5 separate regions of the Homo sapiens genome follow, and regions 2, 3, 4 and 5 are each linked to region 1. Evidence: fine-mapped expression QTL. A gene starts in region 1. Each other region holds a variant in brackets. All regions are shown on one strand. Distances are between the middles of the regions.

What was found. PIP is the estimated chance that this variant, and not a neighbour inherited with it, causes the effect. A credible set is the group of variants that fine-mapping cannot tell apart.
Region 2: its variant is the best candidate, but not a certain one, in a credible set for the expression of KDM4C in blood mononuclear cells (TOPMed, PIP 0.56).
Region 3: its variant is the best candidate, but not a certain one, in a credible set for the expression of KDM4C in blood mononuclear cells (TOPMed, PIP 0.65).
Region 4: its variant is the best candidate, but not a certain one, in a credible set for the expression of KDM4C in whole blood (INTERVAL, PIP 0.75).
Region 5: its variant is the best candidate, but not a certain one, in a credible set for the expression of KDM4C in monocytes after Pam3CSK4 (Quach 2016, PIP 0.83).

What each region holds. Positions count from the first base shown.
Region 1 is chr9:6,755,994-6,760,993 of GRCh38, reverse strand. KDM4C (lysine demethylase 4C) reads right to left here and starts at 3,021. Exons shown (of 22, transcript NM_015061.6): 1 at 2,791-3,021. RefSeq lists enhancers at 1,708-1,927, 3,128-3,487, 4,219-4,930 and silencers at 2,588-2,757, 2,848-3,087.
Region 2 is chr9:7,172,263-7,177,262 of GRCh38, reverse strand. KDM4C (lysine demethylase 4C) reads right to left here. Exons shown (of 22, transcript NM_015061.6): 22 at 1,615-2,710. The coding sequence ends at 2,534. Among named protein-coding and RNA genes, the nearest start is that of KDM4C, 420 kb to the right of the region's middle. The variant A/G (reference allele first, on the strand shown) is at 2,833.
Region 3 is chr9:7,045,655-7,050,654 of GRCh38, reverse strand. KDM4C (lysine demethylase 4C) reads right to left here. Exons shown (of 22, transcript NM_015061.6): 16 at 3,738-3,793; 17 at 1,455-1,563. Among named protein-coding and RNA genes, the nearest start is that of KDM4C, 290 kb to the right of the region's middle. The variant C/A (reference allele first, on the strand shown) is at 2,375.
Region 4 is chr9:6,789,556-6,794,555 of GRCh38, reverse strand. KDM4C (lysine demethylase 4C) reads right to left here. Exons shown (of 22, transcript NM_015061.6): 2 at 1,424-1,584. The coding sequence starts at 1,567. Among named protein-coding and RNA genes, the nearest start is that of KDM4C, 34 kb to the right of the region's middle. RefSeq lists an enhancer at 4,758-5,000. The variant A/G (reference allele first, on the strand shown) is at 2,275.
Region 5 is chr9:6,709,875-6,714,874 of GRCh38, reverse strand. No RefSeq gene overlaps it. Among named protein-coding and RNA genes, the nearest start is that of LINC02851, 8.1 kb to the right of the region's middle. The variant G/TTTTG (reference allele first, on the strand shown) is at 2,191.

The sequences.
Region 1 (5,000 bases):
GAAAGGAAAACACAGCATTAACCATAGAATAAAGCCCCACTTTAGAGAACTGGAGAACTGAAGTTGGCAGTGGAATAGGGAAAGATCAACAGGCCCCTTCAAGGCTTGAAAGAGTATCACCAAGCCAGGCACGGTGGCTCACGCCTGTAATCCCAGCACTTTGGGAGGCTGAGGTGGGCAGATCACGAGGTCAGGAGATCGAGACCATCCTGGCTAACACAGTGAAACCCCATCTCTACTAAAAATAAAAAAAAAATTAGCCAGGCATGGTGGTGGGTGCCTGTAGTCCCAGCTATTCAGGAGGCTGAGGCAGGAGAATGGTGTGAACCCAGGAGGCGGAGCTTGCAGTGAGCAGAGATCGTGCCACTGCACTCCAGCCTGGGCAACAGAGTGAGACTTCGTCTCAAAAAATAAATAAATAAATAAATAAATAAATAAATAAATAAATAAAAAAGAGTATCACCCAAGACTAACTATCCCTCCTTACGCATGCAGTCATTCAACAGATGTTTAACCTAGCAATTACATTATATATATATATATATATACCCAAGAGTAGAGAAAACACGCGTCCACACAAAAACTAGTTCACAAATATTCATAGCATTACTCAGCCAAAAGCAGAGATAACACAAATGTCTACCAACTGATGAATAAACAAAATGTGATGTATCCATAATAGAATATTAGCCATTAAAAGGAATGAAGTACTGATACAGGCTGCAACATGGATGAACCTTAAAAAACATTATGCCAAGTGAAAGAAGTCACTCACAGAAGACCAGATAGTGTATTATTCCATGTATATAAAATGTCCAGAATAGCCAAATCTATTGAGACAGACAGCAGATTAGTGGTTGCCTAGGGACAGAAGGGGATAGAATTGGAGGGAACTAGGCAATGACAGCTAATAGGAACAGAGCTTCTTTTGGGGATTAAAAAAATTCAAAAATTCATTGTGGTGATGGTTGCACAAGACTATTCATTTACTAAAAGCTTTTATTTATTTATTTATTTATTTATTTATTTATATTTTTACTTTTTTTTTTTTTTGAGATGGAGTCTCAGTCTGTCACCCACGCTGGAGTGCAGTGGTGCCATCTCGGCTCACGGCAACCTCCACTTCCAGGATTCAAGTGATTCTCTTGCCTCAGCTGGGATTACAGGCGCCTGCCACCATGCCTGGCTAATTTTTGAATTTTTGGTACAGACGAGGTTTCGCCATTTTGGCCAGGCTGGTCTTGAACTCCTGACCTCAGGTGATACACCCGCCTCGGCCTCCCAAAGTGTTGGGATTACAGGCAGGAGCCACGGCGCCGGGTCTGATTTTCAACTTTAGAAAAGCAACTGACTAAAGTCTGTTAATAAAAAGAAATAAGTCTTCGGTTTAAATTGTACTGTATTACCAAGTTTGCGGGATACTGTAAAGCTTATGTGAAAACTTTTCATAACACTGAAATTGGGAGAAAAAGCACCTAAAAAACCCGAACAACCGTGTAATCCGTTCCAAAACAAACTATGGGCGGGTTGCGCGGAGGCCAGCAAGGTAAGAAAGCAAGCGATAATCGCAAAGCAGAGCCGACTGCTTCCTAATAAAAAATGGACCTTTAAAAATTAAAACCACTAGTTTTCAACCACAACACTTCGAAATGAGAATATTAGTCACCGTTGCCATAGAAACAGTAAAGCCAAGCTGCCCGGAATTTAGACATTTTTTTAAATACCGCAAACTGAAATGGGTGAAAATAGGGCAGAGTTTAGTGTGAACCTAAGTGGCCGGAACCTACTAGTAACTTTCACCAGGATAAAAGTGACTCTGCTTTTCTAACCTACATTTCCGAACAGTGCTTTATAAATCACCTCTCGGGGTTAGTTTATCAAGCGCAAAAAAAAGTTTACCTTGTCTCTTCCGGAAGAAGGAACCTGACAAAACCCCTCCCGGTAGTATTGCCCACAATCAGAGCCAGCCAGCGCAGGCTTGCACCGCGCAGCAAAGGGGGAGCCCAGCATCAAGTCCACGCGGAAAGCATCTGAATCCCGGCTGCTGGCTTTACTGGCGGAGCACAGAGGAAAACCCCAAGCTCCTGCCTACAGCCCCGGCCTGTCTGGCTCCCTCCTCCACGTCCCCACTCCACGCCACGTTCTGTGCCTGGCAGTCCACGCGCCCTAATCCAACTCGCATTTATTTAAGCACCCGCCGTCTACACCGCATCATGGTTCCTCCAGGCACTGCAGGAAGAAATGGCCCCATGCCGGGGGAAAGAAACACCAAAAGGACAGCCGCGAGGGCTGAAGACGACCCCGAATGACGGGATGACTGCCTGCAACGGGTGGTCAGGAGAGGAGCTCCCACCCTCACCCCGCGGGTCGTGACACTCCCAGGGAAGGGAGGGCCCCGAGGGGTGCACCAGGCCCGGCCTTCCTGGAGTCCGCCACAGCCGACTGGCGGCGTTAAGAGGTCCGCATCCCAGGACCGCCCGAGCGCTCCTCTGCCCCAAGGAGGCGACCCCGACTCCGGATCCCGGGAAAACGGCGAGCGCGGGTACCGAACCTCGGTAAGGGCCGGAGCGGGCTGTCACCGGCCCCCGCATCCCTCCCCTGCGGCCGCGGCCGGCCGCTCCCTCCCCAGCTTGACAGTCGCTGCAGTCACGGACGGAGCGTCTCTGCCCCAGCGTCGCCGCTCGCCCGGACGCCCGCACCCCCGTGCCCCACGCGGAGGGGGGCAGTGCCGGGAAGACCTCTCCGGACCCTCCCCCCGCCCTGGCCCCCAGACTCCGGAAAAGCGGTTACCTGGCGCGCGGGTTGGGGCGAGAGCACGACTCGGTGGAGGAGGAAGAGAAGACAGTGGCCTCCGGCCCAGGGAGATTTGGGAAATTTGGGAGACTTGTTCCGCACTAGGTGACAGCTGTTCGCTGCGCACGCGCACAGGACCCCGGCCGCCCGATCACTGCGCCGCGCCTCACCCTCCCGTCGAGGGGGTGGGTGGGAGGCAGCGGCGAAGGCGCGCGCACCGCCGGCTCTCCCTGCGCGAGGGCGCGCGCGCCGTCACGTGACCGCTGGGGCCCGCACTTGGTGAGTCACGTGGGCTTACAAACAGCTTAAAGGTGCCCGGCACGCTCTTGCTTTGGGCTCAACTTCCGCGCTGTGGTTAACTTAGGCTTGCTGGCGCGCATCTTCTTGTCCTTTGGACACAGGCATATCCCATTCTTTCCGGAGGGGAAAGATACTCGCGTAGAAGGAGAAAACAGGTGCACAGAACCTTGCCCGGAAGCGCTGGCTGGGGTCCCGCAGGGCTGGACCTGATGTAGTCCACGCGCCACACGTCCTCCTGGGCGCCGACGCGCACCTATGGCGGCCTCCGACGCGCGGACGTCAGCGTGGCGTTACCGGGGTGGAGCCTCGGAATGTACTGGAGAGCCTGGCGAGAAAGTCGGGGCTCGCAGCTCTCCGGCGATGACAGCGCTGTGTTCCCGTTCTCCCTTCACCCGGTGGCCGGGACCACTGAGCCTCCTTCCCACAATGGGAGATCCCGAATAGGCGAAGAGTATCTTCGTGTCCCAACCCTTTAACAACTACCGCGCAGGAGCGTGTCAGCCTCTGGAAGCAAAACTGTCCGGTGTTGAGTCACCTACACCCAGCACGTCCCGCCCCGACCCGCCCAAGTGTGCTCTTAAGATAGGGAGGCACAAAGGTGACCCCAATAGGAATCCTGGGCTGGCGGTCCCTCAGAAACTAGAGTTGATAACAGTTTGGCCAGAACTGAAGTGACTAGAAATGCAGGTGCCTCCAGCGTCTGAGACTAGATAAGTTAACTTCCTACAACTTGTTGCTTTTCCTCTGTAACTCCGCCTTCCGAGGTGTCAGAAGGAACCAACCAGACCTTAAGCCCCTGTACTGCCAAAGACAGATGGTTGAGCATCAGATGTTTTGCAAAGCTGAATGATTTTTTTTTTAAACTTCCTACAGAGCTCCCAGCTGGGTCCCTTGTGGCGTTTTCTCTAACGTCTTAGCTAAGAAAGATTGGGCATATCTTCACACCAGTGAGCAAAGTTGGGCTAATATGCTGAATTTTCTGTTACATTATACTGATAACAGAATTTTAAAAATATATCGACACCGCTTACCACGCGCTTGAACTCGTTTCTCACTGGGGTGAACATTGTGAGGACAGATGGAATGTGATTAATTGAGCTAAGGCTAACGGGATTATTGGGTCACCATATTTCTTTAGTTGTTAAAAACAAAGTTCCGCTACACACACAGACACACTCTTTTTTGAGACGGAGTCTTGCTGTGTCGCCCAGTTTGGAGTGCAATGGCGCTATCTCGGCTTACTGCAACCTCCGCCTCACGGGTTCGAGAGATTCTCCTGCCTCAGCCTCCCGAGTAGCTGGGATTACAGTCGCCCGCCACCACGCCCAGCTAATTTTTGTATTTTCAGTAGAGACAGGGTTTCGCCATGTTGGCCAGGCTGGTCACAAACTCCTGACCTCAGGTGATCCGCCCGCCTCGGCCTCCCAAAGTGCTGGGATTACAGGCGTGAGCCACTTCACCCGGCCACACACAATTCTGAACTTGGCTAACGTATACTCAACTGGGAATTTTCCAAATGTGTGCATGTAACGTCAGGATCCCAACCATCCTTACAAGTAAATTGGATATGCTAAAATAATAAATATGCAACCTAACACTTACTTAGAACAGTAATGTGAGCTACACACTGTCTTCAGAGCTTCACATGTATTAATAAATACTTATAATAATTCAATGAATAGGTACTATTAATACCTCATTGTTACAGATGTGGAAACTGAAGCATAGCGGTTAAGAAATATGTCCACAATCAAGCAGCTAGGGTCTTTTGGAAGCCATATGCTATATTAGAAATCTTGTGCACCAGAATAAAAAATCTGGAAACCTGAAATCCATTTTCTTCAGAATTTGCAGATGCACAAATAACATTTCTTTACCATTGTGAATTAGAGTATGACTTTTTTTTA
Region 2 (5,000 bases), 420 kb before region 1:
TTCTCATTTCAAACACACAAAAAGGAATTAAAATGTTATGAAATATGCCAGGCCGTGTTTACTAATCCCTTAACCTCCAGAGAAAGGGCTTGCAATTAGTGTTACATTAGAATTGTCACAGCTAAGCAATTTTTTTTTAATACTAGAAGGACTTCAGCTGATTTTATGCTACACGTATACACTAAACATGCAGCTAGTGTAACGCAAAAAAATTAAAATCACAATTGAGGTGCCACACAGTAAGTGAAAATGGTTTAACGGTCTGTCTGGTCATAGAGCTAATAACCACTTTATGCAGAATGCAGTGAAACAAAGGTGCCTTTCTCAATAGCCAGAGTGCATTTGTGGCCAGCACTATTTTACTAAGGCCATATACAGCTGTACTTGGTTATAGGCACATATGTTAAGTGAGACTATAAAAAACAGCTGTATTTGAGATCGCATAGACCTCTGCACATTTTCTCCCTGTGGCAGCCAATCAGAAATCTTGCTGACAGGCAAACTTGTACAGAACAAATGATCCTATTTAGATTAATTCCTCTTAATGCCTTAACCAGGCCTACTTTCCTGGCATATTATAGAGAGAGCAGGTCAGTTCCATTCAAAACCTAGAGATAGAAAATTCAAGCTTGATTAGTTGATAAAATATATGACTACACTGGTAGAGAATGTGGAGTGCTTAGTCTCTGTAAAAAGAAGGCTGCTGGGCTCTACCCCAGCTCAGAGTTCAGCCACAAGGTACTCTGGAATATGAGCACCTAGCCAGGGAGCAGTCTAGGGAACTGGGTTTTAGCTGTGGCTCTTTCCTTACTGTTTTGGTCTTCACTCTCTATTCAGGACCAGGATACACCCATACCCTTTGCCATAAAAGTCTGAAATGCCATCCCAGTCCCTGGCTCTGGGCTTTTGCCCATAGGATGTTAACCAGTGCCCCATAGAGGACTGAAATGTGCTTACTTGGCTGGGCTTCCTTGCTCTCCTGCCTCTGCCATTGACATGAGAAGAACATATCCGGGCTGCCCACTGGGTCCACTAGAATGATGGGAGACCCACGGAGCAGGTGTGTGAGCTAGTCCAAGCCAAGGTCAGCACGGCTGTCCAGCCAAGCCCTGCCTAGATGAGAGAAATAAATGCTTTTTGCTGCAGGCCACTAAGATTTTGCAATTTTGCAATTGTTTGCAATGCGGCAAAATGGTGGCCCCAGTTAACTGAAGCAGTCACCAAAACTGCCTGCCCTTGGGCATCCCTTTTCCTGTCTATCCTCCGGGTCTCATTTATACAATGAAGGAGGGACTGGAGGACCTCTAATTCCTACTAATGACAGCTGCGGACCAGGAATCCTGGAACGAAAAGTGATCCAGACTCAAGGGTCTGAGATGTATTCAGGGCCTAGAAGAAGTTGAAGAAAACACTTCCATTGGTACTGAAGTAGGCAGGCAGGGGACTTTGTCTCCAAAAATATCGCCATGCATGTGCCACAACCATGGAAAAAGTCAGCGACAGAAGGAGGGTCTGAAAAACCTGGGCCGCAGTATGTCCTGATAGCCAGCTCTCCAATAAACTTGTTTTTCTACTGGTTTAAACCCAGACAAATAAGCAAGTCAGAGACAGGACTGGAGAAAATGGAAATCTTTATTTTTAAACACTAGTACATTTTCAGGCTGTTTTAAAAAAGAAAAATCATGTTACATTAGTTCAAAACTATGCATCAAAGCATATTTATTTAAACTCTAATTTTACAAACACATAATGAAAGAAACATATATTTTATAAATATCTACTCGGAATATGTATTATGAAAAAAAGTGTTTAAAAATAACAGCCCCAGATCTCCCTCTTTAAATATATAAAATTCGCATAACAATTCATAAGAATTCTTTCTCAAGAGCCAAAAATTTCATTTCACAAAGGCCAACAACTCAGTTCCCATCAGACACAATCAAAAGTAATAGGAATATTCAAAAATGTAAAAGTTCTGTACAAGGGAAATACAGATAGCACACGGGTAAATCTCATTAGCATACATGCCATTTGTGTTTTAAAAATGTTTTATAAAAACTGCAATTTGAAACAAATAAGTGAGAGTCCTTCCCTGACTGTGGAAAATATATAAATTATCGCCCTACCCGCTGGGTACCGAGGTGCCACCTGCTGGAGCTAGAGAGAGAGGTCCCCGTGTGTTTCCTGACAGGGCCCTAAGCCGCACAAGGGGACCCGCCTCCTCTGTGGCAGTGGCTTTTCCTTGTGGGTGATTCACTAGTATTTCCTTTCACTTAGAAAACTTCTTTGGGATCATAGAAGACAACTGCTCACAAGTGAAAGCAAGACTAGAGATGATTTCAGATTGCTGCGTCCAATTCATTGGGTGTATTTTGTATTTTTGGTGACCAAACTCTGGAAACCCGATTTACCACTGTCAGAGACACACCCTGTCACCTATGCCAGCAAAACTCACGGCACAGCCCCAAGGATGTCCCTTCATCTTCTCTCTTCCAACCCAAGCTGCTCTGTGGCCTGCAGCGATGTATGCAGACTACTGTCTCTTCTGGCACTTCTTCTGGAAAGAGCTCTTCAAAAAAGTGCGGTATACAGGGTCGGCCACATATTCATTCTTAAACCTGGAGCTCAGCACTCTTTGTCTCTTTCTCTCCCCTTGGATAATGTCTGCTCCATAAAACGTGTCTTCAAATCGCATGTCAGAGGCTGTGGACTAAAAGCAGCTGGTGTTATATTGCAAAAGGGCACGGCATTTGATCTTCAGAACACTGGACAAAGATCTGACTCGGTCAGCTGGGGTTAGGGTGCAGATGCCCAGGTCACCAGCTCAGGCTA[A/G]AAGGGCCCCAGGCATGGCTTTGGGCTTTCCCTCGCCTCTCCCACCCAAAGTGGGGGGCTCCATTTAGCCCTACTTTCTCCAGGATCTCCCCACCCTCCAACCCCAGGGACCTTCCCCAAACAAAAGCAAGATTAAAGTCTTCTCGTTTTAAACTTCCCTCATTTTTCATCTCCCCTCTGTTTTTGACAAATGTCAACAGTCATCTCTAAGTTACCTTTACTCCTACTTAGCTTTGGGCCTCTGCCCCACCCCTTCCCTGAAACTGTTCTTGCTGAATGAAGTCCTAGTTGCTAATTCCTGTGACACCTTCCTATCCCTAAACTGACTTGACTAGTCTGCCAACTAATTACTGCTTAAAGCTCTCTTCTCTGTCATTTTGTAAACCCACTCTCCTGCTTCTCCTTCTCTGGCTGCTCACTTTTGATGTCTCAGGGGTTCCCTTTCTTAACTATCTGCTCAACTACGATGCCCTAAGGTTTGGCACTGGGCCTTCTCCTCTCCACTCCTGTTCCCTGGGCCTTTGTGCCCACACCCCTGGCTTCAGTGTCTGCAGGAGATGCTCACATCTGCTCCAGCTCAGGCCTGTAAGTGCATTTCCCCAGCAGGCATCACAAAGTCCCTGTCTCAGAGGCCCTTCAAATCAACCTGTCCTAAATTGAACTGAAAGCCTTCCTTCTTCATTGCTGTCCTTCCTACATTCCATAAAAGGCACCACCATGCCCATGCACCCAGTTACATTGGCCAGAAACCTAAAGGCACTGTAGACATTTCCCCACCGTGTCCAGGATTCCTCCTGCATGTACCTTGAAGCCCTTCAGCCTTTCTTCTTGATCCTTACCCTATGGGGCAGGCCCTCACCTCTGCAAAGCACTGCAATAAATGCTGTACCTCCAACCTATTTCCCACAGTACCACTGGAAGAAAGCTCTCTAAAAGCCCTCTTATTATAAGACTCTACATGATCATATGCCCTTGCTTGTAATTTTCCAGCAACCTACTGCCTTCAAGATGACATCCCCACTCCCCAGGCTAGACCTACATAACCTGGCCAGAAGCCTGCCCCGTGCTCTGCTCAGACGGCATCAGTTGCAGGGCCTGGTCATACTTGCCTGGCTCAGGGCCCCATGCTTCTCTGTCTTTGGACACACTGTTTCATTTCTGTGAAAGTTATTCTATTCTACTGTCTCTGCCCTCGGCAAGCTTAAGGGTCCTTCTTTGGGACTCCTGTGGCCCTGACACATCCACTCAGTAAGAGGAGGGCAGTGGTAGAGGTAAGGGGCAAGTAAGTTTCTCCCCATCAGGGGAACCCCATAAAGGTGAGGATATTAGGGACTGTGTACCCAATTTTACATGTGTTCCCCACAGCAAACAATGTGGCTAGTATTTGGCTGCTGTTCAGTAAGTGTTTGCTGAGTGAGGGCATGTGGCTTTTTCTGTGATAATCAGATAAAGCCTAAAGTCTATGGTAGGCACTATTTTTGCTTCCCAATTCCCTACTATCTTGCCTCCTAAAATGCACTGGCAGCTGTTTTCACTGAGGTGGATGACTTCTGATGACATCAACACACAGCACATTTCACTGTGCTGAGACTGCTTCCCCTGGCTGCTGGCAGAGGCAGAGGTGAAAGACACTTTAGGACTTGAAAACACACGGTCCATAGTAAAGAAGAGAAAAACAAGAAAACAGCCACAAGGAAGCCTGAAAACAAAAAATGTACCGAAGCGTAAAGCTGTTCATGTTTCCAGCCAGTTCATGGGACAGTTACTCAGGGTAACAGGCCACCTCCACGGCTTCCCCCACATACCACCTAGTTTCACTAGAGAAGAAAACTAAATCATTATGGGCTGGTTGGGTTCCCTCTGCCATTAGGAGAAAACACTTTTGTTTCATTCATTCTTGGCAAAATACTTCCTCTGAGTAATCTTTCACTTGTGTAAGTGCTAAAGTTATCAAAGAAGAAAATAAAACATCTATGAAAGTGTTGCCACTGTGCAGAAACAGCAAAAGTCGGCCTCTCAAATACAATAATAAAACCGATTTACCAGGAGCTCTAGCTAATTATGCACCGTTGCTATGGTTATTCTGTGAGACAATAAAAGGTAACGGGGCTGCTTCTGAAGTGAGTGGAAAAGAACCCCACACAATCACTGAGGTGGACTGCTGGCTC
Region 3 (5,000 bases), 290 kb before region 1:
GTGATTTTAAAAGGTGGTGTAGAATTTTGACAAATATCTATTACTTTTATAATCAGAAAAAAATATTAAAATGTTAACATTTGTTAATATTTGTCACACCAAACATTAAATTATTTAACATGTGGTAGTTCAACTTTTTTTTGGATATCATATCTTATAGTCCTAATTCTTACAAACGTTTTGTTTGTTTTTTGGTGTCTTTTTTTTTTTTTGGTAATCTGGGTATAAGATTTCAAGCTTTCCTATGGAAGTCCAGGAGCTGAAGAATTATACTCTCTTCTTACTTCTTCTGACAGTCACTGTGACCTTTAGAGGGCCATTTAAATGGCCCACTCATTTCCATCTTAGATTACAAAACTTCCAACTACCACATGCTGAGCATCCTAAGCCCAACACTCACATCAGCCACAGTAATCATCAGTTCCATGAAAGGCCCATATATTTCCTAGTGAAGTGAAATTCTTGATGGAGGTATGATGGCAAATAACAGTGTTCACTTTCACTTCTCCGAAAACAAAATACAGTAGGCTAGACTGTGAGTTCCTATAAGAGAGCCCCAGAGACGGCACACCCAGCTCGCCATTGGGGAAAAGAGCAGTGGGAAAACAAGCAACAGTCAAGAAAAAAGAGTCATAGTGATGATGCCTGAAATGCTGTACAGTGGAAAGACCTTCAGTGGAAAATAACAACGACTCAGGAAATTCTAGAGTTTTAAGTCCACCTGTAAGACGTGCTCCAATACATTAAGGTCATGCAGTTGAACTTTGGGGAAAGTTCTAATTAGGTATGCAATATAAGGGCCTAAACTAAGGATCTGCTGGCTCATAATTGAATAAAACTACAAAGTTACTTCAATGTTAAAGACAATAAAGGCCTATATTTTCAATGAAAAATGCTCTTAACAGAAACCAATGGGAAGATTTTTACACAGTTTCTGAACAAGCCAGAGAGTTTGGCATATTAAGTGACTTGTACCTATTCAAGAGTGAGAAAATATCTTCGTAAAAATAAAAGCTTCTTTATTTCTCTGTGTGTCTCTTCTTGGTGAAGAGATAATGAAATTAGGTTAGATACATTTTGCTAGGTTAAGACCAACCAAAGAGAGTCAAGAGAGAAAAATCTAAACAATTTAAATAGAGTTAGATGGCTCAGCTCCAGTACTGACAAATCTTACCAGATAACCTATAGTTTGAAAGTTCACATTAATTCAGGAAATGTATTACTATCTTTTTCCTCATTTCAGACAGAAATTGAGGAAGGTTATATGCAAACTTACAATATAACAGGAAAAGAATTTGTAAGAATAAATAAATTTAGGCTAAAGGAAAATAAGGGTAGAAAAATAAAAGAAAGCTAGGAGAAAATATACCTTGGGAATGTGTGCATTAATGGAAAAATTCAGAACTTGAAATTAACACTAATTTATGAGGTAAAAAAGAAGCTTTGCCACTCACCAATTTTAACCTCTGTAAAGGTATTCTGCCTACATCTATTTGTGTCCTTTCTGGGACATTAGTGAATCGAACTTCTGGGACCGCAACGGCGCACATGACATGGGCCCACCTACAGGAAAGGAGACATTAAACATAAACAAAAGTTCCCTAAACTTACATACTTCAACTTGGTGATGCCAGTTCTCACAGATGGGAAATACACAGATGAGCAAGAAAGCCAAAAGCCTAAATCCATCACAAACAGATTCTGAACTGTAAACCTCCTGAATGATACCTGGACAGACTCAGTACCACAGCTGCCCAACAACATTGTGCCATGAAGAGCTGATAAAGGCCCACGACTCTATCCTATTAACGTGCACATATTTTTCTACACTTGATCTGCAAAATACTGAAATGTGGGTTTCTTATTTCATTTGATGCTGGAATATGCATGTATGTGCTTAAAGTACTTAAGCTAATCAATATGTGGCAAAAGATTAGTTCAATTAATAAAAGGTATGAACTGGGTATAGCACACAACCTTTTAAAATAATACAAATGTCATGAAGCAAACTTGTTTAAGTAGCAAAAGTTTTCCAAAAGAATTAATGCTAATCTTTAATTAAATTGTTTCTTGCTGCAATCTTACTATAATCAATGAAACCCAGAGACAAAAAGAAATGAAGTTTATCTCATACCCTAGTTTCCTACTTTTTTCACTTTCTGAAAAATGACAACTTTCCCGTTAATACTATTAAATGTCTCATAAATGTTATATCCCAAAATAAATATAAAGAATCATGAGGTTTGAAGAGATCTTGAAAGAATTGTCAAATCCATCAACCTATTTTTAAGCCAAAGCATATTTACTTCACTCAAACAGTATCAGACTCTATCCTGTCTTTCAAGACCACAGGAAGAGAGAACAAGTATCGATC[C/A]CACCAGGGCATTCTTCCACATCGAAATAAATACTATCATTCCACAGAAAACACTATTTCTTTTTGTTGTGGTCCAAGCATAGGAAGAGAACGTCTTATCACCCGTGTTTTTACAGGAACCACCTAAACCATCTCACAGTATGGCATCCAGTGCAATATCCAAGAACTAGTGAAGACTTTCAGTATAGTGCGAATCATATCAACCAGGACTGTGGAAGAACATCTTCTTTCAAAAATTAAGCAAACCCTACAGTTCCTTACAACAAATTTTATTAATGTAATAATGATAAATACCTTCACTCCTCCTTCCCAGCAATCAGAAACATGTGCACATGTAAAGAATTATGCTAAATCCACCATTACATTACACCAGGAGTCCTAACTCCAGTGCCCAGGGGGCCAGGCGGAATGTAAGCAAATACACATATACTAGGAAGTCATGGTGAACTGAGGAGTACCTGCCCCACTGACACTGGGTTCTATCCCAACTTGTTATTACTGCCTTATAGGGATATACAATCATTTTCAATTAAAGATGAAAATCTGGATTTTTATGTAAAAATCTCTCAATTTTAAATTTTAGATGCAATTTATAAAATGGTGCCTGGGTCCAACAAAACATATCTTAGACATGAATCTGGCCCTCAAGTGCCAGCCTGCAAAATCCGCCCAGGTTATTTTGACATGTCTCTATTCCAGCGGACCCTGTAATATGCTTTGGCCCCATTTTCAATATTAAAACCTGGTCATGAAAAAAAAATAAAATCCATGCAGAACAGTCATAAAAACTAGACTGCCTTCCTTTTATGTTCACTTATGACTCTCTTTCAAGACTCTCTTCATATTCTCCACCTGATCCCTTTAAATCTTAACATCAATGTTTTCTCCCTATCTTTTCTAATTTAGTACACTTACATTCTCATAAATTTGCTAATGTAAAAAGTAAATGGTTTTGTTTTATTATCATTGCTATGACTGATTTATCTGAAGATCACGGTTTCACTTTCTCAGGTATGCCCTGTTTTAACAGACCAATAGCATTCATCATATTAAACACCAGGATTCTAATGGCACCTGGATGATATGGGCTAACTCCATTTTCAAAACTCTGTGAGTAAAAGAGGGGTTATTTTTCATGGTGTCAAATACAAAGAAGAGAAGCATAACTTGGACTGCTCTTGCCCTGCCGAGATGAGAGTGCAAACAGTAGAAGTCTCTGAAGCACAGAATTCCAACCTCAGATCTGAGCAGCAAAAGCTTTGAAACCACGTGTACAATGAGAGGTAAAGCGAACTGTCATCCAAAGGTTCTAGAATGGAGAAAGAAAAATAATGAAATTCAACACAATTAATGTATTACTTACTTATTGTTCTTCGTTTGCTTAAGAGCACCTCCTCTCAAATTGCAGAGACAGCATTCCTGGGGGGAAAAGAAAATACCACATGATGACCAGACCCACATAACAAAAGTCATTACCATTCATCTAAATATTCTCAGAGATCCTGATTTTTCATTCTAAAATTAAAACCATCAGGAATTACATGAAGGTCTATCTCTGAGAAGTTCAAAAAGAAAGACAGCGGAGGGGGAAATGGTAGAGGTACACCCCTCAAATTTCAGGGTATAAAATTCTCCCAGAGGGAACCATCATGAAATGAACCTGGTATAATTTTAAATTGACACTGTCATCAAAGGAAAGCTGTGACACAGAGAACCTAGCAGTCCAGAGAACCTAGTCCACACACCTAGTATATGCAAGAATTCTAGAGCAGAGAATGCACACACGACGGTGTAGCCTTGTGCTCTGGGAATTCACTCCTGGATACAGGGTGGCTAATGAATGGAGTCTGGGCAGGCTTTTTTCTACTACAAGGATAAGCAAGAGGCTATTTTTAAACGATACTCTTTTCACCAAAGTAACACTTGCGCCTCACTCTTTCTGTGGGCAAATAGTGTTATAAAAAGTGTCCTGATCAACCCCAGCTATCCGGCCCGAGAAAACAGCACCAAGAAACGTTTTGCTTTATCCTTCCCACATAAGCTTAACCTTTCAGCACTCTTATGTGTCTTAGCTTAGAATGTAATTTTCTACTCCAAGATGACTCCAATTGCTACAAATATAGATTTTATTAGTTATTTCTCACTACACTCTCATGAAAAAGACCAGGAAAAGGAGGACCAGAGAGCAGTGCACTGCCTTCTCTTGACCTAAATTGTTTCAAGCTTGTCCTCTCAATTTTCTGCATTAATACATTTTTTAAATTGGTAGAAGTTATTTGGAGTTTTTTCCTCCAAAGTTTATATACGAAACCTCTTTACCCTGTCCACTAAAGTGATGTTCCTTAACAAATTTTGACAATTTTTCCTAGCTTTACAAGGAATCCATCTAACTGATCTACTATTAATGAGGTGTGAAACTTCATAGCTTTTACTTTTCTGAGGAAAACGATACCAAAACAACTGGAAAGAATCATGTATCTGTATAACTTTTGTTAGGCAGTAATAAATGCAAACAACTAGAAATGTCCAACAGGTTTGTGTGTCTGAAAAGTCTCTGTAAATCTATATGAAAATTCCTGGATTCAGAGTAGTAAAAGATACACTGTGTATATTGATTTGAATCCAT
Region 4 (5,000 bases), 34 kb before region 1:
AGGAGCCAGTGTGATCTTTTCAAAATAATGTCCCAAAAATAGCAAAAGAAAGAAACAAACAGCCACCATATCTTCCTCTCCCACTTTAAGCCTGTCAGTGCTTCCCTCTACACTTAAAATCCCAAATGCCTTACCATAGCCAGACAAGTCCACTGACCACCTTCCTATTCCTCCCAGCCACAAAGTACAGGTCAGCCTCCAGGCCGCTGGACTTGCTATTCTTTCTGTCCCCATATCTTGAAAAGACTGGTTTATTTTTATCCTTTGGATCTGTGCTTAAATGTCCTTATTTCATCATTCTAAGATGCTACAACTAGAATGTAAGCTCCATGGGGGCAGGAACATCGTCTGTTCTGCTCCCCCATATCCCTACCTCTAGCACCTGGCATAGTGTCTGGCACATAGCAGGCAATCTCCACATTTGTTGAACAAATAACCAGAAAGAAAAGAGAATAGGCAAATGTAGAGAGAGAATAAGTCAGTTTGTGGTTGCCTATGGGCTGGGGGTGATAGCAGGGAATGGAGAATGACTGCTTAATGCATATGAAGTTTCTTTGGGGGATGATGAAAATGTTACAGAATTCTATAGCGGTAATGATTGCACAATTCTGTGAATATACTCAAAATCACTGAATTGCACACTTTAAATGGATGCATTATACAATATTATTATATGATAAAATATATCAATAAGTGTTATATAAAAAAAAAGAGGCCGGGCACAGTGGCTCACGCCTTTAATCCCCGCACTTTGGGAAGCCGAGGCGGATGGATCACCTGAGGTCAGGAGTTCAAGACCAGCCTGGCCAACATGGTGAAACCCCGTCTCAACTAAAAATACAAAAAAATTAGCGGGGCATGGTGGTGGGTGCCTGTAATCCCAGCTACTTCGGGAGGCTGAGGCAGGAGAATCACTGGAACCCGGGAGGTGGAGATTGCAGTGAGCCGAGATCACGCCATTGCACTCCAGCCTGGGCGGCAAGAGCAAAACTCTGTCTCAAAAAAAAAAAAAAGAAAGAAAGAAAAGAAAAAACATAGAAGGAAAGAAAAAGGATAGGAGAGAGAAATTGTGGTTAACCTTCAGGTTAATAATTGTTGTCTACAAAAAAACTGACAAAAACTATGAATACTCTCACACCTCTGAAACCCATACATGGATCTCCTTGGTTTCCATCAGCCACCCTTGGTTGGTTTTGATTTTTTTTTTTTAAGCCTTAGAAGACAACCTAGTATGAATAGTTATACTTGAAGGAAAAATAAGACAATTACTATTTGAAGAAATCAAATGTTTCACATGGATTAACGAGAACAAAGATTTTGCAAATTTCTTCCTTCAGAAACAATGTCCCAAATCGTGAAAACTAAGAACATAAATTAAAGGCCAAGTGATTGTTTTTCATTTAAAGCATCGAAGGATAATCACCTTTGCAAGACCCGCACGATGGGCTCCTTTAGACTCCATGTATGCAAGGTATTTGTTGAACTCCCGGAACTCCTCCATGGAGGGTCTGAAGGTCATTATCTTACAGCTGGGGTTCAGAGGACTTTCCACCTCGGCCACCTCCATGATGGTTAGGGCAGTGTCTGGAGAGAAGACAGTAGGGTCAACAGAACTGAATTATTATATGCTTTAGGTCATTTTTAACAAATAGTATGTCAGCTCCCCCAGCAGGAACCCTTCTCTTTCAGTCACTTCCCATTCCCTTCTACCAGTCTCAGGGAGACTCCCTCATCTCTGCCTGAACCCCTGAACAAACAAGGGCCTCTAGTCATTCCTCTTGCCAAGTTCCCTATGCCAGGTAGAGAACCACTGATCTGACTATACTGTTAGCCTCCTCAAAACCCTTCCAAGTAAAAATAAATTTTCTAGGCCGGGTGCGGTGGCTCACGCCTGTAATCTCAGCACTTTGGGGGGCCAAGACGGGCAGATCACAAGGTCAGGAGTTCGAGACCAGACTAGCCAACATGGTGAAACCCCACCTCTACTAAAAATACAAAACTTAGCCGGGTGTGGTGGTACATGCCTGTAATCCCAGTTACTCAGGAGGCTGAGGCAGCAAAATTGCTTGAACCTGGGAGGCTGAAGTTGCAGTGAGCCAAGATCTCGCCACTGCACTCCAGCCTGGGTGACAGGGTGAGACTCTGGTCTGAGCGACAGAGTAAGACTCCGTCTCAAAAAATAAATAAATAAAAAATAAATAAAAATTTTTTTTTTGAGACAGTCTCGCTATATTGCCTAGGCAGGAGTGCAGCGGCGCAATCTCGGCTCACTGC[A/G]ACCTCCACCTCCCAGGTTCAAGCGATTTTCCTGCCTCAGCCTCCCCAGTAGCTGGGATTACAGGCACCCGCCACCATGCCGGGCTACCTTTTTTGTATTTTTAGTAGAGATGGAGTTTCACCATGTTAGCCAGGCTGATCTAGAACTCCTGACCTCAGCCAATCCGCCAGCCTCTGCCTCCCAAAGTGCTGGGATTTACAGATGTGAGCTACCGAGCCCAGACGTAAAAATAAATTTTCCTTTTCTCTTTTTCTTTTTGAGACGGAGTTTTACTCCTGTTGCCCAGGCTGGAGTGAAATGGCGCAATCTCGGCACACCACAGCCTCGACCTCCCGGGTTCCAGTGATTCTCCTGCCTCAGCCTTCCGGGTAGCTCGGATTACAGGCATGGTCTACCACACCCAGGTAATTTTGTATTTTTAGTAAAAATGGGGTTTCTCCATGTTGGTCAGGCCGGTCTCGAACTCCCGACCTCAGGTGATCCACCCGCCTTGGCCTCCCAAAGTGCTGGGATTACAGGCATGAGCCACTGTGTCTGGCCGTAAAAATGAATTTTCTAACCTTGCAAGTTTACAAAAGATGTTGCTTCTATATACCAGTTCTGAAACAGACTCTCACTCACATACGTACCTGTACAAAGGCCTAGTCTAGGCTGAGTAGAGAATGTTAAAAATCGTTAGTTTACTCAGGTGTGCTTACAGATTGTCATATCATGCCTTCCTACAGTAATTAACAAGCCATCCATTCAGCAAAATCGCCAAGCACCAGGCAAAACACGGAAAAGAATGACGATGGAGACAGAAAGGGATGAGGTCTGTCTTCACCTTCCAAACTGTCTAGAGGCTGAACAAACTTCAATATAAAAATGTACACAAGGGCTGGGAGTGATAGTTCACACCTGTAATCCCAACACTTTGGAGGCGGGCATATCACTTGAGGCCAGGAGTTCAAGACCACCCCGGGCAACACGGTAAAACGCCATCTCTACTAAAAATATAAAAAATTAGCCGGGCGTGGTGGCACACGCCTGTAGTCCCAGCTACTAGGGAGACTGAGGCAGGAAAATCACTTGAACCTGGGAGGTAGAAGTTGCAGTAAGCCGAGATCATGCCACTGCACTCCAGCCTGGGTGATGGAGTGACACAGGAAGAAGTAACTAACTCCACCTGGGTTAATGAGCAATCATTTTCCCAGAAAGGGGGAGAGTTAAGTCTTATAAGAAGGTATGGGAGTTGGCCAGACAAGAGAAAGGGCACTCTAGGCAGCAGAAATATCTGGAAGTACCGCTGGAACGGACAGGAGTTTAATAATGTGTCTGGAGCATAGAAAGGAAAGACTATAGGAGATCAAAGTAGGAAAGTAGGCAGGTTTTACTATGAAAACACAGGCTTAATCTCGCTGTCAATAAACAGGATGATTCCTTCAGCAAACATTTATTGAGCACCTATCATGAGACAGGCACACAGAATGCAAAGGTAAGTAAGAAGCACTAAAGTGGCTGCCTCAGGAAGGAGTCCCACCCCAACCTTCTTCTAAATCCATTAGGACCTGGCATCTGACAGCACAAACAACAAATCCTCCTGGAAAAAAGTTTTCCTCTTTTTTTTTTTTTTTTTTTTTTTTTTTTGCTGAATTTAATCTGCCTGACAGAAAAATTAGAAATGAGGGATGGGGCAGATAAAAGGGTGAAACGTCATGAGATAGTAACAGGTTAAAACAGAGCAGGGCTGGCCAGGGCTAGGGCTCATGCCTATAATCCCCGCACTCTGGGAGGCCGAGGCGGGCGGATCAGTTGAGGTCAGGAGATGGAGACCATCCTGGCTAACACGGTGAAACCCCATCTCTACTAAAAAATACAAAAAAAAAAAAATTAGCCAGGTGTGGTGGCAGGCACCTGTAGTCCAAGTTACTCAGGAGGCTGAGGCAGGAGAATGGCATGAATCCAGGAGGCGGAGCTTGCAGTGAGTGAGCCCAGATCACGCCACTGCACTCCATCTCAAAAACAAAAACAAAAAAACAAAAAAAACAGAGCAGGGCTACAGATAGTGATGTAGTCATTATTTGTTTAAAGAAAGTTTGGCCAGGCGCGGTGGCTCACGCCTGTAATCCCAGCACTTCAGGAGGCCAAGGCGAGCGGATCACACCACCACACCCGGCCAATTTTTGTATTTTTAGGGATGGGTTTCGCCATGTTGGCCAGGCTGATCTCAAACTCCTGACCTCAGGCGATCCCACCCGCCTCGGCCTCCCAAAGTGCTGGGATTACAGGCGTGAGCCACCGCACCCAGCCTAGAAAGTTTAAATGAGCATCTATCTCACAATGCACACATGAGGAAGTAGGAGATACATAAAATTTAAACCTCACCACCCTTTAGGAACTTACAATCCAAAGGAGAAAATAATCTGCACAAAAATATATTAACACATGGTAGAAAATATTCTGAATTCTCCCTGCCTCAGGGAGGGGGCCTGCAACAGGGAAAAACCTTCCAGGCTACATTCCTACCTGCCTCTGTTCACGTGTAGACAGGTACATACCCCCAAATTCATGGGCTTCAGGATAGCAGCCTCACTCTATATAGTATACACACAGTCCTTTAGAAGCATCTGGATCTGGTCCAGGCACGGTGGCTCACACCTGTAATCCCAGCACTTTGAGAGGTCGAGGCAGGCAGATCACTCGAGTCCAGGAGTTGGAGACCAGCCTGGGCAACATGGCGAAACCC
Region 5 (5,000 bases), 46 kb after region 1:
AGCTTCTTTAATAATTAAATATCTCAGTGGTGTGTGATCCCAGGGAAGTATTCTTGGCACAGTTTTGACATGTTTACTTGGTTGGAAGGACATTGTGGGAATATAATGAAGCCGAAAACATGGGAATATTGCGAGTCAAAAATATGGTTTTCCCTGTATTTCAATATCCACAAAACTGAAACATGCCCTACATGTGTCCTTGAGTATATTACTAATAAGGTATACAATATAAGGCTTCCATCTCAGAAGTTAAAGTGGTGTAGAATTGCCAACATTTATACAGAATTTAGTATTTGTCCAGCACTGTTCTAAGTGCTCCACAGGTTTTAGCACCTATTACCCTCAGTGAAGTTATTACCCAGTGAATAGTCCCATATTACAGATAAACTAACTGCCTCACTATGAGATTGAGTGATTTGCTCAATCACTATGAGATTGAGTAATTTGCTCAAAGTCACACAGAGCCAGTATCAGCTTCTCTCTCTATTTTTTTTTTTTTTTAAATAGGCGGGGTGGCTATGTTGCCCAAGCTGGTCTCCAAGTCCTAGGCTCAGATCCTTTGGCCTCAGCCTCCCTGGAGTAGCTGGGGACTAGGGCACACGCCACCACACTGGGCAGGATCTGCTTTTTAAAGTAGTCTTCTGTACTCTTAGTGCAAAGGAGAACTGGACTGGAAGTCTGGAGGCCTATACTTCAGACCTAGCTCTACTATTTACCCAGTTGTTTGACTTATTTTTTTATTTTTTTTATTTTTTTTGAGACGGAGTTTCGCTCTTATTGTCCAGGCTGGAGTGCAATGACGCAACCTCGGCTCACTGCAACCTCTGCCTCCTGGGTTCAAGCAATTCTCCTGCCTCAGCCTCCCAAGTAGCTGGGATTACAGGCATGCACCACCACACCCTGCTACTTTTTGGTATTTTTAGTAGAGATGGGGTTTCATCGTGTTGGCCAGTCTGGTCTCAAACTCCTGACCTCACGTGATCCACCCGCCTCGGCCTCCCAAAGTGCTGGGATTACAGGCGTGAGCCACCGAGCCTAGCCTCAGTTGACTCTTGAATGACATGGGTTTGAATTGCATGGGTCGACTTATACACTGCTTTTTTTCAACCAAATGCAGATTGAACATACAGTATTCACGGGATGTGAAACCCTGTATGGGGAGGGCCCAATTTTCCTATACTCTTATTCCTCAGGGCCAGCTGCAGGACTTGGGTATGCTTGGATTTTGCTATACTTGGGGGTCCTGTAATGGTTATAAGACCAATAACCAATCGTCTGTGTATACTGAGAGACAACTGTACTATAGAGCTGTGTCTCAAGTTTCTTCACCTGAAAAATAAGGATTCTACATCAGTGCTGTTGACTTCCCTGAAGAGTTATGAATATCAATACATTGATTTTTAAAAGTAGAAGCATTTGGTTGGGCGCGGTGGTTCACGCCTGTAATCCTAGCACTTTGGGAGGCTGGGGTGGGTGGATTACCTGAGGTTGGAAGTTCAAGACCAGCCTGACCAACATGGTGAAACCCTGTCTTTACTAAAAATACGAAAAATTAGCCAGGTGCAGTGGCGCACGCCTGTAATCCTAGCTACTTGGGAGGCCAAGGAAGGAGAATCGCTTGAACCCGGGAGGCAGAGGTTGCATTAAACCAAGATCACGCCATTGCACTCCAGCCTGGGCTACAGAGTAAGACTTCATCTCAAAAAACAAAAAACAAAACAAAAACAACAACAAAAAAGTAGAAGCATTTTTAAAGCAGTAAAACACTGTATGAAACAGATGTTATATTGCAATTATTTCACAGTCTTGGCTATTGAAGTAAGCCAATTAGGCAATTTACTAAATTATGACCCAGATGACTATATTTATGTCCCTGAAGTAGAATTACCTTTAAATTTCAATTGTAATTAACATTTTTTTGCCAGATGAAATAATTCATTCAGTTCTGATAATAAACCACATTTGCACAATAGCTGTATCCTTTTAAAGACAATTATGTAGATGATTACCTTTGAAATCACCTCAGAGACACTAATTACTAGTAAAAAATGAGTTTCTCAATTGCTCATAATAGTAACAATATAGCAAATTATAGAGTCAAATTTTGATGTTTTAAACTCCAGTGGACTCTGGAAAATATAGACATAGAATGACAGTAATCACTGATTTTTTTTTTTTTTTTTTTTTTTT[G/TTTTG]AGACAGAGTCGTGCTCTGTCACCAGGCTGGAGTGCAGTGGCACGATCTCGGCTCACTGCAACCTCTGTCTCTCTGGTTCAAGCGATTTTCCTGCCTCAGCCTCCCAAGTAGCTGAGATACAGGCACACGCTACCATGCCCGGCTAAATTTTGTATTTTTAATAGAGACGGGGGTTTCACCATGTTGGCCCGGGATGGTCTTGATCTCTTGACCTCGTGATTCACCCGCCTCAGCCTCCCAAAGTGCTGAGATTGCAGGCGTGAACCACTGTGCCCAGCCTTATCATTGATTTTGAAAAATGATTCTATATTGACAATAATTTTGCCTTTTTATGAGCCAATAAATTCTTATTGTTTATGACTGTTTACATTTAGTTACATTACTTGCATCAGACAAGTGCTAGTAGTTATACTGAACTATGCTATGGCCACAGACTCTCCTCCTGCTTACCTTGGATTTCTAAATACCAACCCCAGCTGACATGGAATAGGGCTTTGTATCTGGCGGATGCTCATTAACCGTTGTTAGCCAACTCTGAAAGTTGTCTTCTTAGCATGCAAATACTTGTAAAAATTTTACAGAAGGGTGACAAATTCTAACAGTCTACCTTCAGTTGATTTTCTTATTTTTTTTTTTTCAGACAGAGTCTTGCTCTGTCGCCCAGGCTGGAGTGCAGTGGCTCACTGCAACCTCCGCCTCCCGGGTTCAAGCGATTCTCCTGCCTCAGCCTCCCAAGTAGCTGGTGCCTGCCACCATGCCCAGATAATTTTTTGTATTTTTAGTAGAGATGGGATGTCACCAAGTTGGCCAGGCTGGTCTTGAACCCCTGACCTCAAGTGATCCACCTGCTTTGGCCTCCCAAAGTGCTGGAATTACAGGTTTGAGCCACTGTACCCAGCCCAGTTGAAATATTTTAATCTCCCTTGATTCTCTGGAGAAGAAATGACCTGTATATTTTCTCTTTCGCTTTATTTTTGGAGGCTGGCTGTTGGGTTTCTGAACACGCTCTGTACTTCTTGTGGTCTCCTAATGAATTTTAAGTAGTTATTACCATGATAGTTTACATTAATTTGGGCTGACTCACTATCTGTGTGTGCCTGTTTGCTTCATATTTCATCGTCAGCAAAAAACTGGTGCAAATGCATGGTGGGGGCACATGATATAAAACATCAGTCTCTAACTTGTATTATGGCTTTAATTTTCTCTGTGTCTTCACTTTATGATCAAAAGCAGAGTGGATTTTCTGCTTGCTTTTTATTGGAATGTTGGGAGTGATTAAGGAACTAAGACATATTTTGAAAAAATCAGCCTTTGATGTGATGTGATACTTACATGAATTAATATTGTGCATTTATATAATTAAAGGACCTATGCATTTAACTTATGCCTTCAAGAATCACTGTTGCAATTCAACACATCATCATATATAATATATAATACATAATATTATTATAATATATAATATTATATATAATATATAATATTATATATAATATTATAATATATAATATTATTATAATATATAATATTATAATATATAATAATATATAATATTATATAATTATATATATTATATAATATATAATATTATATATATTATTATATAATAATATTATTATAATATACTCTCTCTATATATATAGTGTGTATGTGTGTGTGAGACAGGGTCTGGACAGGTCTGCCCAGGCTGGAGTGCAGTGTCACCATCTCAGCTCACTGCAGCCTCAACCTCCCAGGTTCAAGCAATCTTCCCACCTCAGCTTCCCAAGTATCTGGGACTACAGGCATGCACCACCAGGCCTGGCTAATTTTTGTATTTTTAGTAGAGACAGGATTTTTGCCATGTTACCAGGCTTGTCTCAAACTCCTGAGCTCAAGCGATCCGCCTGCCTCGGCTTCCCAAAGTGCTGGGATTACAGGCATGAGCCACCGTTCCTGCCCTGAAATGTGTACACTTTTTAATTTAAGAATGAAAGAAGACCGGGCGCTGTGACTCATGCCTGTAATCCCAGCACTTTGGGAGGCCGAGGCAAGTGGATCACCTGAGGTCAGGAGTTTGAGACCAGCCTGGCCAACATGGTGAAACCCTGTCTCTACTAAAAATACAAAAAGTAGCCAGGTGTGGTGGCAGGCGCCTGTAATCCCAGCTCCTCAGGAGGCTGAGACAGGAGAATTGCTTGAACCCAGGAGTCAGAGGTTGTAGTGAGCCGAGATTATGCCACTGCACTCCAGCCTGGGTGGCACAGCAAGACTGTGTCCCCCCCAAAAAAAAAAAAAAAAGAGCCAGTCAGGCACAGTGGCTCACGCCTGTAATCTCAGCACTTTGGGAGGCTGAGGTGGGCAGATCACCTGAGGTCAGGAGTTCGAGACCATCCTGGCCAACAAGGTGAAACCTCATCTCTACTAAAAATAGAAAAATTAGCCGGGCATTGTGGTGTGCGCCTATAATCCCAGCCAGTCTGGAGGCTGAGGCAGCAGAATTGCTTGAACCTGGGAGGTGGAGGTTGTAGTAAGCCGAGATTGTGCCACTGCACTCCAGGCTGGGCCACATAATTAGACTCCGTCTCAAAAAAAAAAAAAAAAAAAAGAATGAAAGAGCCTTGCTGGGTGGTGGCTCACACCTGTAATCCCAACATTTTGAGAGGCCAAGGCAGGCAGATCACGAGGTCAGGAGATCAAGACCATCCTGGCTAACACGGTGAAACCCCATTTCTACTAAAAATACAAAAAAATTAGCCAGACGTGGGGGTACACGCCTGTAACCCAGCTACTCAGGAGGCTGAGGCAGAAGACTCACTTGAACCCGGGA